3 separate regions of the Homo sapiens genome follow, and all the other regions are linked to region 1. Evidence: fine-mapped expression QTL. A gene starts in region 1. Each other region holds a variant in brackets. All regions are shown on one strand. Distances are between the middles of the regions.

The links. PIP is the estimated chance that this variant, and not a neighbour inherited with it, causes the effect. A credible set is the group of variants that fine-mapping cannot tell apart.
Region 2: its variant is the best candidate, but not a certain one, in a credible set for the expression of CACNA1B in nucleus accumbens (GTEx, PIP 0.74).
Region 3: its variant is the best candidate, but not a certain one, in a credible set for the expression of CACNA1B in cerebellar hemisphere (GTEx, PIP 0.88).

What each region holds. Positions count from the first base shown.
Region 1 is chr9:137,875,741-137,879,942 of GRCh38, forward strand. CACNA1B (calcium voltage-gated channel subunit alpha1 B) reads left to right here and starts at 2,042. Exons shown (of 47, transcript NM_000718.4): 1 at 2,042-2,477; 2 at 3,314-3,419. The coding sequence starts at 2,194. All of the region lies in intron 2 of CACNA1B-AS2 (CACNA1B antisense RNA 2), which reads right to left. RefSeq lists an enhancer at 2,235-3,150.
Region 2 is chr9:138,172,692-138,176,893 of GRCh38, forward strand. It overlaps the pseudogene TUBBP5. Among named protein-coding and RNA genes, the nearest start is that of FAM157B, 42 kb to the right of the region's middle. The variant T/C (reference allele first, on the strand shown) is at 1,817.
Region 3 is chr9:138,107,809-138,112,010 of GRCh38, forward strand. The region is part of intron 39 of CACNA1B (calcium voltage-gated channel subunit alpha1 B); the gene reads left to right. Among named protein-coding and RNA genes, the nearest start is that of FAM157B, 110 kb to the right of the region's middle. The variant G/T (reference allele first, on the strand shown) is at 1,686.

The DNA of each region.
Region 1 (4,202 bases):
CACAGCCAACCCTCGGTGACCTGGCAGGAGGAAGTCAGGGGAATAGTAGACACCTTGGCCTTGCTCTTTCCTTCCCTCAAGGGCCTTTGGTGCTCCTGTTGGGCTAGCATAACCAGAAACCACAGGTCAAGGAACAGGCTGATGTGGCTTTCAAAGGCCAGCTCCAGCGTCACGCAGCACGGAGGGAAGGGCAGAGCAGATGTGGCGAGCCCAGCCTCCAGGCGCAGGGCTGCAGCAGTGGCCTCTCGTCTTGGCATCCCTCGAGAAACTCCACCCCTGCATAGCATCTCCACTTCTGTCCCCAGTAGGCAATTCTTAATTTCCACCCTGTGACTAACAAGCTCTTCCCTCTGTCTTCCCCATCTCGGCAAAGGGCATCCCCCTCGACTCAGTCACTCAGACCAAAAATGAAGAGCCTGTGTTTCTATCTCTCCTTCACATTTACACTGGACGCACTCTCTCTAAGAGAAAGAGGCACTGCTCATGGCCCCCATGTTCAAACCACATCATCTCTCTCTGTGCTGCTGTCAAAACCCCTCCCTGGGCTCTGATTTTTCTCTGTGACAGGCCAGTTGGCAGCCTCCCCGACAGCCTTAGCACCTGCTTCCCAGCTAAGCGAACCCTGATTTTGTTTGGGGCAACTATGTGCTCGCCTAGTGGGGGCTGGCCATCCTGGTCCACTTTGACACATGTTCACTTTCCCACCCTGTTAAAGTCAGGGCCGGCCACATGGCCCATGGCCTAACGGGGTTAAAGAGACACTTGCAGGGGGAGCCTCTGAGAAGCTTTTCCTTTGTTAGAAAAGAAAATCGTAACCTGATTCACAAAGTGGTCATCCTTTGTACACCTGCCACTTCCTTCCCGTTTGAGATGCTGGTGTAGCGGTGTGATGCCCTGTGCTATGACAGCCACCCTGGGGCATGAGGCAACAGGCAGGAAGGCAGAAAGTGTATGTGGGGATTTTGGAGGGAGGAGAGATGGTGGCTTCGTATTCAGTGAGATCACAATGGCATCGTGCAAGCTGCTGCTAGCTGGGAAGCGGGTTGTTCGCCTCTGAATGCATCCTAAGTGATTCAGCACCCCAGCCTCCTGCAGTCCACACTCCACACGGCAGCCCGAGGGACCCTTCAGAGGCCTACGCGCCTCTGCTCGGAACTGTGCGGACTGCCTCCCTCTCAGAAGGCGCAGCCCGCACCCGGCCTCACTCTGCACTCAGCGCCTTGCGAGCGAGCTTCAGGTCCGAGAGGGTCCCTTGTTCCCGAAGGTCTCCCCGACCCCGGGGCCGCCTTTTTGGAGGTTGTGAGGACCCACGGGCCTGCACGAAGTGAGCGCTGTGTAAATGGTTGCTGTGCTTTGTACAAAACGGTCAGCTCCGTGAGGGCAGAGCTGGGAGCCCAGGACAGGCCCGGCCCGCGGTGGGCGCTCAAGGAGGCCTGGGGAATGGCAGTGACCGTGACAGGTTCCCTAACGGGGCGTGGCCTGCAAGGCGGTCAGAGGCTTCTCTGAGCTGAGATCCCGGAGCCAGCCCCGTGCGTGGAAACAGCAGGTCCCGCACCCGGGCTGGGGGCCCCCGACAGAAGCGTCCGCGTGGCACCAAGGCCGCGAGCCGAGCGCACCCGGAGGGTTGGGAAGGCCGGGGACCCGGCGGGGACGGGGCGGGCCGGCCCAGGCCTGGCGCCCAGCTCTGGGCTGCAGCCCCAGGGCTGGTGGCGCCTCCGGGCGGAGCGAGGGGTCCGTCTGGGCCGAGTTTGAGGAGCCGAGGGCACCCAGGGGCGGTGCGGCCGGCAGAGTGGGCTCCGGGGACGGCCCGGGCTGGCGCTGAGCGGCCGTCGAGGACCCACAGGCTCGTCCGCTCCTGGGCCCGGCCCAGCCCCGGGGTGGGAGGCGCGGGGCGAGGGAGGCGCAGCCGGAGGGGCCGGGGCGGGGCGGGGGCGGCCGCGGGGCGGGGCCGGCGCGGCAGGGTGGGCGGGGCCGGCGCGGATTGGCCGGGCCCCGCCACGTGACCGGCCCCTTATAGGGCGTGGCGCGGGGCCGCGGAGTCGGGTGAGGCGGCGGCGGCTGCGGCGGTGGGGCCGGGCGAGGTCCGCTGCGGTCCCGGCGGCTCCGTGGCTGCTCCGCTCTGAGCGCCTGGCGCGCCCCGCGCCCTCCCTGCCGGGGCCGCTGGGCCGGGGATGCACGCGGGGCCCGGGAGCCATGGTCCGCTTCGGGGACGAGCTGGGCGGCCGCTATGGGGGCCCCGGCGGCGGAGAGCGGGCCCGGGGCGGCGGGGCCGGCGGGGCGGGGGGCCCGGGTCCCGGGGGGCTGCAGCCCGGCCAGCGGGTCCTCTACAAGCAATCGATCGCGCAGCGCGCGCGGACCATGGCGCTGTACAACCCCATCCCGGTCAAGCAGAACTGCTTCACCGTCAACCGCTCGCTCTTCGTCTTCAGCGAGGACAACGTCGTCCGCAAATACGCGAAGCGCATCACCGAGTGGCCATATCCTGCCGGGCGGGGCCGGGCGGGGCCGGGCGGGGACCGGGGTGGGGGCCGGGGCCGGGGCCATCTTCCCGGTGGCCGGGAGGGCGCGACCTGGGGAGGCGTCGGGAGACGGGCGAGGGGGGTACGGAGCGCCCCAGGGCCCCTCGGAGCGGCGGGTGCGGGAGCATTTCCGTGAGTGCGGCGGGCGCGGGGCGGAGCCCCTCTGCTCCGGACTCGTCCCTCCGCACGCCGGGTCCTGGGGATCCTGGTCGGTGCACAGTGCGCGGCTAGCCTGGAGGGCACCGAGGGCGAAGCCGCGTCCGTGCAGGTGCGAGCGCTGTGGGGACGCGGCCGTGCGCGCGCCTGGCTGCAGGTGCCTGCGTGTGCGGGCTGAGCTGGAGCCTGGCGCTGCGCGTGCGTGCGCTCGCGATGCGGGCTACATGCATGTTCACGTGCCTGTGTAGGTACATGTGGCTGCGTGTCTGGAGGGAGCAGCGTGCGCCTGCGCGGGGTCTCCCTCCAGCCTCGCCTGGGGGCGCTCGGCCCCCTCCCCTCGGGGCCCTGGAGTCGGGCGGAGCCGGGCCGGAGGCGCTGTCCGCGGTGCTGACGGCCGCCCGGGTGTGCCGAGGGGCTGGCGGCCCAGACTGCGGAGGCCCCGCCTCGCGGCCGCCCCTAGGGATGGGGGCAGGGAGTGAGGGAGACCAGGCCGCTTCCGCCAGGAGAGGGGCTCCGGACCCAGTTGTCTCAGCCCCTCCGGAGACGGCCTAGCGGTGGCTGCTGCACTGGGCTCTGCTGGCGTCGGCCTCGTGTTTCCCTCCGTGCGGCGTCTGCCGGCCAGTCCTTAACTCACGCACTCCATTCGAGTATATGATCCTGGCCACCATCATCGCCAACTGCATCGTGCTGGCCCTGGAGCAGCACCTCCCTGATGGGGACAAAACGCCCATGTCCGAGCGGCTGGTGAGTGCCCGGCTGGGCCTGAGGGCAGGGTGGTGGGGAGGCCGCGACTCCACTTTCCTTTATGGTCTGTGCCTGAGAACAGCTTCCTCGGGCAGGGTCGTCTGGGCAGTGCCCCTCGCGTCTGAAGGAAAAGGTAGGCCTGGCAGATAACACCTTCCTCGAGGGCCAGGGCAGCTGGGGTCACCGGCTTAGCCCTGGGCGTGGCCACGTTAGCCCTGGGCCAGTCTGCCCTGTGCCACGAGCTACTCCTGCACCTCAATGGCTGTCCTGGCTTTCGGCGCTAGACTTTGATCCAGAAAACCATGTTCTAAACTTGGGGTGGGGAAGGGGCATTCATGTCTTCGGGAAGGTCAGCTCTGAATGCCATGTGTGCCCTGCTGGGCTGAGATGGGCTTTGGCCTGGATGTGGGAACCCTGAGCCTCATCCTCCAAGTTGTCTTGTGCGGGCCTGCTTGGAACCTCTTCTCCAGTGGGCCTCACCATCCTGTGGGAAGCATTCCTTCTCAAACATTCTGAATCATTTTTACCTGTCCCCAGATTCCAGCCAAGAGGCCCCCGTGGTAGCCCCCATTGGAGCATAGAGTCTGTGTGAGTCAGGGTGCCAGGGCAAGGTCTCCGTGGCTCAACAGGAGGCAAGGTGGAAGGCCAGCCCTGTGGGGTCTCTGGAGGGGCTGGGTCAGAGGAAGGGCAGCATTTTGGAGGTGAGCAGTTTCTGAGGTCAGAGCATGTCCCCCAGCCCCCACTCTTCCCTGATGCCTGGCCCCATGTCTGGGTTCCGAGTGT
Region 2 (4,202 bases), 300 kb after region 1:
TAATAAAGACATATCTGAGGCTGGGTAATTTATAAAAAAAGAGGTTTAATTGACTCACAGTTCCACATGGTCGGAGAGGCCTCACACTCATGGCAGAAGGCAGGTGAGGAACAAAGTCACATCTCTTACGTGGCAGCAGGCAAAAGAGCTTGTGTAGGGAAACTCCCCTTTATAAAACCATCAGCTGTAATCCCAGCACTTTGGGAGGCCAAGGCAGTGGATGACCTGAGGTGAGGAGATTGAGGCCAGCCTGGCCGACATGGTGAAACCTCGTCTATACTAAAAGTACAAAAATTAGACAGTCATGGTGGTGGGCGCCTGTAATCCCAGCTACTCGGGAGGCTGAGACAGGAGAATCGCTTGAACCCGGGAATCAGAGGTTGCAGTGAGCCAAGATCATGATAATGCACTCCAGCCTGAGCAACAGAGCAAGACTCTGTCTCAAAAATAAATAAATAAATAAACCATCAGATCTCATGAGGCTTATTCACTGTCACGAGAACAGCATGGGAAAGACCCATCCCCCGATTCAATTACCTCCCACTGGGCCCCTCCCACGATATATAGGAATTATGGGAGCTATAATTCAAGATAAGATTTGACTGGGGACACAGCCAAAGCATGTCACAGGTTATGAAACAAATTGATTCTAGCAGGCCAGACTTAAGAGAGATGAGCCCCTTGACCATCCCAAGGCAGAGTGGTTAACAGATGCAAGTTGTTTTATGCATCAGGAAAACAGGAGGGCTAGATATGCTATTATTAGCACAAGAGAATCAAGGCACAAGCCTTGCTGGCCTCGACCTCAGCTCAAAAAGCTGAGTTAATTGAACTTACTAGGTCCCTGCAGTTGGAAAGGATTTAAAAGTTAACATTTACACTGATTCCAAGTATGATTTTTTAGTGCTTCATGCTTATGCTGCAATTTGGAATGGGTGGGGACTCCTGACCCCCAAGGGCTTTTCCATACAACATCATTCAGATTTTGAGCTTGTTAGAGTGCTGCTTTGCTGCCAAAAAGTGACTATAATTAATTGCAGAGGACATCAAAAGAGAGACTGACCATGTAAAAGGAAATGCCCTTGTAGATGCCACAGCCAAGGCCCCTGCACTGAAAGGGCCAATGAAGCTTGTGGGCGTGCTGGTCAGCATACATAGAACTGGGCCGGAATACCCTGAAGAAGAACGAAAATGGGCCAGGGATTGCATTTCAGTCCAGGGCCCCTCGGGCTGAATGATGGTAATAAATTACTAACGCCAAGTACCAATCACAGGAGTATAACTCAGCACTTTCATGATTCTTTTCACCCTAGAAGGGATTCTTTGTTTCTGTTAATGTCTCATTTGTTTATAGGGGTAAATCTTTTCAAGACACTAAAACAGGTGACTCAGCCCTGTGAGCTCTGTGCCTGACATGACCCAAACGGCCAGCAATTTTCTCCTTCTCCAGTTAAACCTGTCCAACATTGAGGAACCAATCTACATGAGAACTGGCAACTCTAATTTACCCCGAAGCCTTTCTGCAGGAGATTCAAATATTTGCTAATGCTTACTGATACCTTCACTGGTTAGATTGAGGCATTCCCCACCCCATCTGAAAAATGTTTACCAGAAGAAATAACTCCTCAGTTTGGGTAATCTAAAAGCCTGCAAAGTGACAATGGCCCATCTTTCACAGCAGGCGTAACCCAACACCTATCTCAGCTTTAAGAATCCAATATTACCTTCACTCTGTGTGGAGACTGCAGTCCTCTGGAAAGGTGAAAGGGCTAATCCTACTCTACAGAAGACTCCAGCTAAATCAGACGCCTGACTA[T/C]CTCCAACACCCATAGCTTACTGCGGGTTTGAACTGCTCCAAAGTAAAACGTATAATTAAGTCCTGTTGAGTTAACATGTGGAAGGCCTTTCCTAACGACAGATCTCCTAATAGATGAAAAGACTCATCAATTACAAAAATATGTCATCAATCTGGGACAGGTGCAAAGGCACTCCGTGCATATGGAAACAAGAGTCTTCCCCTCCCACATGGGAGGAAAATTCAGTTTCAGCTCAGCTAGGGATTTAGTCTTACTAAAGACGTGGGAGGAAGTTCTCCAGCTGAGCAGCTTTCCCCAACGTGGAAGGGACCACGCAAGGACACCTGAGTTCTCCAACAGACGTTCAACGCCAAGGGATTCACAGGTGGGTGCACCTGTGTGGAAGTAAAGCTGTTGCTTATTCTGGGAGCCCAATCGGAGGCTGAGGGAGGTGGGCGCGGGGCTGTTTAAGCGTTGGCGGAGGCCGGGCTGGGTCGCTGCGCGTCTGCTCCTCCTTCTCGCGCTTCTCCTGCCGCCCTAATCCTGCCTTGGCCACGAGGGAGCTTGTGCTCTCACGCAGATCGGGCAGTGCGGGAACCAGATCGGGGCCAAGGTTGGCAGCCAGGGCTCTGAGGGCCCAGCCCGGGCCTGCCGGGTGGCCGGGGAAGATGTTAGCAGTGGCGGGGCGGTGCCCCTGCATTGCGGCCCCTGGGCTCCCTGCCGGGGACGGTGGAACTGGGTGGCTGGCGAGGCGGCCGGGGTGGACCCCAGGGACAGGGCGGCCTAGGGATGGGGGTGCGGGTGGGGGTGGGAGAGTGGCTGGGGTGCCTCCGTGACTCAGCCCCGGCCTGTCTGGCCCCTCCCGTCTCTTGCAGTTCTGGGAGGTGATCTCTGATGAACATGCTATCGACTCCGCTGGCACCTACCACGGGGACAGCCACCTGCAGCTGGAGCGCATCAACGTGCACCACCACGAGGCCAGCGGTGCGACCCCCGTCCTTCCCCCACCCAATGTGCACCACCACGAGGCCAGCGGTGCGACCCCCGTCCTTCCCCCACCGCCCTCCTGGGAACGCGGCCCTCCCCTCGCTCATGCCCTCCCGCCCCACGCAGGTGGCAGGTACGTGCCCCGCGCTGTGCTCGTGGATCTGGAGCCGGGCACCATGGACTCTGTGCGCTCGGGGCCCTTCGGGCAGGTCCTCAGGCCAGACAACTTCATCTTCGGTGAGCTGCGGGCGAGGACTGGGGTGCGGCTCCTTAGCCAGGGCAGCTCAAAATCCAGGAACGCTCCAAGGTCATCCTGTGGGAACTGTGGCGCCAGGGCCCCTGAACACCCTCCTATCTGCCGAGTCGAGTCGCTCAATCTGCCTCTCTTAAACGGGCTTCGGGAGGAAGTCCCGGGTGTCTCCTCAAGGTGAGGAGCTACTGATGTCCCTGCCGGGAGCTGAGCTGGGGCCGTGGCTACTGCCTTTCCTGAGAATGGGCAGGAGCCACCTGCGGCGAGGTCTGTGAGCCCGTCTCAGGTTTGACTCCTGACTTAATTCCTAACAGGGGAAGCTGCTGTCCTGTTACTCTGGGGGAGCGGGTTTCATTTGCTCCACCTGCAGGGCGAACGGTGCTCTCACCTCACGTGTGACACTTGGCTCTTTCTGCATTATGGTGGTGACCACTGATGACCGTATACCTGGCCATCGAGTGACCGGCTGTGCTGTCTTACAGGTCAGTGTGGGGCCGGAAACAACTGGGCCAAGGGACGCTACACCGAAGGCGCGGAGCTGACGGAGTCAGTGATGGACGTTGTCAGAAAGGAGGCTGAGAGCTGTGACTGCCTGCAGGGTTTCCAGCTGACCCACTCCCTGGGTGGGGGGACTGGGTCTGGGATGGTTACCCTCCTCATCAGCAAGATCCGGGAGGAGTACCCAGACAGGATCATAAACACATTCAGCATCCTGCCCTCGCCCAAGGTGTCAGACACCGTGGTGGAGCCCTACAACGCCACCCTCTCAGTCCACCAGCTCATAGAAAACGCAGATGAGACCTTCTGCATAGATAACGAAGCGCTATATGACATATGTTCCAAGACCCTAAAACTGCCCACACCCACCTATGGTGACCTGAACCACCTGGTGTCTGCTACCATGAGTGGGGTCACCACGTGCCTGCGCTTCCCAGGCCAGCTGAATGCTGACCTGCGGAAGCTGGCCGTGAACATGGTCCCGTTTCCCCGGCTGCATTTCTTCATGCCTGGCTTTGCCCCACTGACCAGCCGGGGCAGCCAGCAGTACCGGGCCTTGACTGTGGCTGAGCTCACCCAGCAGATGTTTGATGCTAAGAACATGAGGGCTGCCCGTGACCCCCGTCACGGCCGCTACCTAACGGCGGCTGCCATTTTCCAGGGTCGCATGC
Region 3 (4,202 bases), 230 kb after region 1:
ACCCCGTCTCTACTAAAATACAAAAAATTAGCCGGGCATGGTGGCGGGCGCCTGTAGTCCCAGCTACTCGGGAGGCTGAGGCAGGAGAATGGCGTGAACCCAGGAGGCAGAGCTTGCAGTGAGCCGAGATTGCGCCACTGCACTCCAGTCTGGGTGACAGAGTGAGACTCTGTCTCAAAAAAAAAAGAATAGATAACCTTCAGTTTCAACACCAGAGGACAAAAAAAAAAAAAAAAGAGATAACCAGGCCAGGTGCCCTGGCTTATGCCTGTAATCCCAGCAGTTTTTGAGGTTGAGGGAGGAGGATCACTTGAGCTCAGGAGTTTGAGACCAGTCCGGGCAACACAGGGAGCCCCTGGCTCTACAAAATATTAAAAAATTAGCTGAATGTGGTGGTGAACGCCTGTGCTCCCAGCTGCTTGGGGAGGCTGAGGTAGGAGGAATGAGCTGTGATGGTGCCACTGCACTATAGCCTGGGCAACAGAGTGAAACCCCATCTCAAAAAAAAAAAAAAAAAAAAAAGCAAAAGCTTCATAATACCATATATATTAAATAAATTAAGTTTAGAGTGGAAAAACCTTCCAAGAAAGACAATCCCAGGTCCAAATGGCTTCTTTATTGAAGTCTACCAACTGTTTAGGGAAGAAATAATGCCAATTCTGTATAGACTCTTCCAAAAAGTGGAAAAAGGGAATATTTTCCAACTTATTTTATTTTCAGAGGCCAGCTTTGCTCTGATACCAAAACTAGACAAAGACATGACCAGAAAAGAAAACTACAGACGAATATCCCTTATAAACATAGATTTTTTTAAATCTTCAACATAATCTTTAAGCAAACTGAATTTTTTTTTTTTTTGAGATGGAGTCTCACTCTGTTGCCCAGGCTGGAGTGCAGTGGCACGATCTTGGCTCACTACAAGCTCTGCCTCCTGGGTTCACGCCATTCTCCTGCCTCAGCCTCCCGAGTAGCTGGGACTACAGGTGCACGCCACCACGCCTGGCTAACTTTTTTGTATTTTTAGTAGAGACAGGGTTTCACCGTGTTAGCCAGGATGGTCTCCATCTCCTGACCTCGTGATCCGCCCGTCTCAGCCTCCTCCCAAAGTGCTGGGATTACAGGCGTGAGCCACTGCACCCGGCCAAACTGAATATATTTTAAAAGATAATATATGATGACACAAGTGGGGTTTACCCCAGGATAAGTTAGGTTCAGTGTTTGAAAATCCAGTTTACTGTATCAAAGAAGGAAAAGTATATGATTATCTCAATAGGTATAGAAAAAGCATTTGACAAAATTCAACATCCATTCATGATTTTTAAAATTTTACATAAAGTAGGAATTAAGGAAAGCTTCATCAATCATGTATCATAGACTCACTTATACGGTCAATTGATTTTTAACAAACTTGGAAAGGCAATTAATGGAGAAAAGATCATCTTTTCTACAAATGATGCTGGAGAAATTTAGACAATCCTATACAAAAAGAGACATTCTTGACATGCCGTTTTAGCTTGCTCGGGCTGCCCCAAGAAAATATCACAGCTTAGACAAAAGAAATGTATTTCTCACAGTTCTGGAAGCCAGAAGTCCAAGAGTTTGTGTTTGTGAGGTGGGTGTCACTCTTAGGCCTCTTCTCTTGGCTGGTAAACAGCCATGGTCCTGCTGTGTCCTCAAACAGACTT[G/T]CCTCTGTGTGTGCAGGGAGAGAAAAAGAGCAAGTGGATTTCCAGGTGTCTCCTATGAGACCACTGATTCTGTGGATCAGGGCCCCACAGGAACTCCTTGAACTGATCACCTCCTTACAGGCCCCGTCACCAAATACAGTCACATCTGGGGCTTAGGGCTTCTACATGTGGACTGGAGTTGGGGACAGCTTGATCCATAGCACATACCTTTTACCCTGTACAAAAAATAACTTGAAATGGATTGTAGACAGAAACGTAAAATCTAAAATTATGAAACCTGTATAGAAAACACAAGGCCAGGCGTTGGTGGCTCACGCCTGTAATTCCAACACTTTGGGAGGCCAAAGCAGGCGGATTACCTGAGGTCATGAGTTTGAGACCAACTTGGCCAACATGGTGAAACCCGTCCCTACTAAAAAAAGCTGGGCCTGCTGGTGTGCACCTGTAGTCCCTGGGAGGCTGAGGCAGGAAAATTGCTTGAACCTGGGAGTCGGAGGTTGCAGTGAGCCAAGATAGTGCCACTGTACTCCAGCCTTGGTGACAGACCGAGATTCCATCTCAAATGGAAAAAATCGATAAATTGAACTACAGCAAAACTTTTGCTATATGATATATATATATATACATATATATATATATTTGAGACAGTCTTGCTCTGTTGCCCAGGCTGCAGTGCAGTGGTGCAATCTCAGCTCACTGCAGTCTCTGCCTCCTGGGTTCAAACGATTCCTCTGCCTCAGCCTCCCAAGTAGCTGGGATTACAGGCACATTTCAACACACACAACTAATTTTTGTATTTTTAGTAGAGACGGGGTTTCACCATGTTGGCCAGGCTGGTCTTGAACTCCTGACCTCAAATGATCCACTTGCCTTGGCCTCCCATAGTGCTGGAATTACGGGAGTGAGCCACTGTGCCCCACCACAAAAGATATTTTTAAAAATGAGGCCAAGTGCAGTGGCTTGTACCTGCAATCCCAGCTTTGATTAACTTTGAGAGAAGAGGTGGGAAGATTGCTGGAATCCAGGAGTTCAAGACCAGCCTGGACAACAAAGTGAGGCTCTGTCTCTACAAAAAATAATTTTAAAAAATCAGCTGGGCATGGTGGCGCATGCCTGTGGTCCCAGCTACTCAGGAGGCTACGGCGGAAGGATTGCTTGAGCCCAGGTGTTCGAGGTTCCAGTGAGCTGTGATCATACTACTGCACTCCAGCCTGGGCAACAGATTGAGACCCTGTCTCAAAACAAAACAAAAAACCAGAATGAAAAGACAAGCCTAAAATTGGAGAACATATTTGCTAAACACGTATCTGCTATAGGATTAGTATTCCTAATATATGAAGAACTGTCACAACTCCCTAAGAAAATAACCCAACCAAAACAGACAAAAGATTTGAACAGAAGTGTCATCAAAGAAGATATATGGAAGGCAAACAAACACATGCAAAAATGCTTGATGTCATTAATCATTAGACAAATCCAGAATTTAAAAAAAAAAAAACCACAACGAGATTACACTCCAGTCTACTGGAGTTGCCAAAATGCTTTTCAGAATGACAATACTTAGTGCTGAGAGGGCAGAGCAACTGGAATTCTACATGTTCCCAGTCGGAAAAGAAAATGGTGCAGCCCCTTAGACAGTTTGCCGTTACTTCTATGGTCCAGCCATTGCACTTAGGAAATGAAAACATACATCCACACAATCTATGTGCAGATGTTTACAGCTTTATTCAAAATTGCCCCAAACTGTAAACAACTCATATGTCCATCAATTGGCAATGGATAAACAAATGGTGCATTCATACAATTAAAGAATACTCAGGAGTAAAAGGAAACACGCTACAGTTGCGTGTGGCAATGTGTATGACTCTCACATGCACCACACTGTGTGAAAGAAGCCAGATTCAAAGGCCAGTGTGCTGTATGATGCCATTGGCGTGACATTCTGGAGCAAAACTATAGGGACCCAAAACACATCAGTGGTGGCAGAGGCTGCCAGTAGGACGAGGGGTCGACTCAAGGGAGCACAGAGGAATTTGGGAGTGATCAGCTGTTGCACACCTTGACGGTGCTGCTAGGCACATGGGCGTATGAATTCACCAAAGTTCATAGAGAATGAAAAAGGGTGACTCTCACTGCATGTGAATTGTACCTTAATAAACCTGATGTTCAAGAAAGGTGAATCCAATTATTTTATTCCTCTGCTCAAAACCCTCCACTGCCTTCCCTAACCCTCCTGCCCACCCCTCCATCCACCCTGCCCCGAGGCCTCCCTGGCCCTTCGGGTGACACAGCAGGGCCAGTGTACTCGGGGGCTCCTTTTACCTTCAGGGCACACAGGCCTCCTCGGGAGACTGATGGCCGTCCTGTCCACAGCCGCAGCCCTGCTGATATTCCCCTTCCCCGCTCTGCTCTCCTTGCCTTGGCACTTTGCACTCTCCGGTACACTTTTTTTTTTTTTTTACTTATTACTGCTTTATTGGTAGACTAAAGCGTTGTCAACTCCAGAAGGGAAGTTTT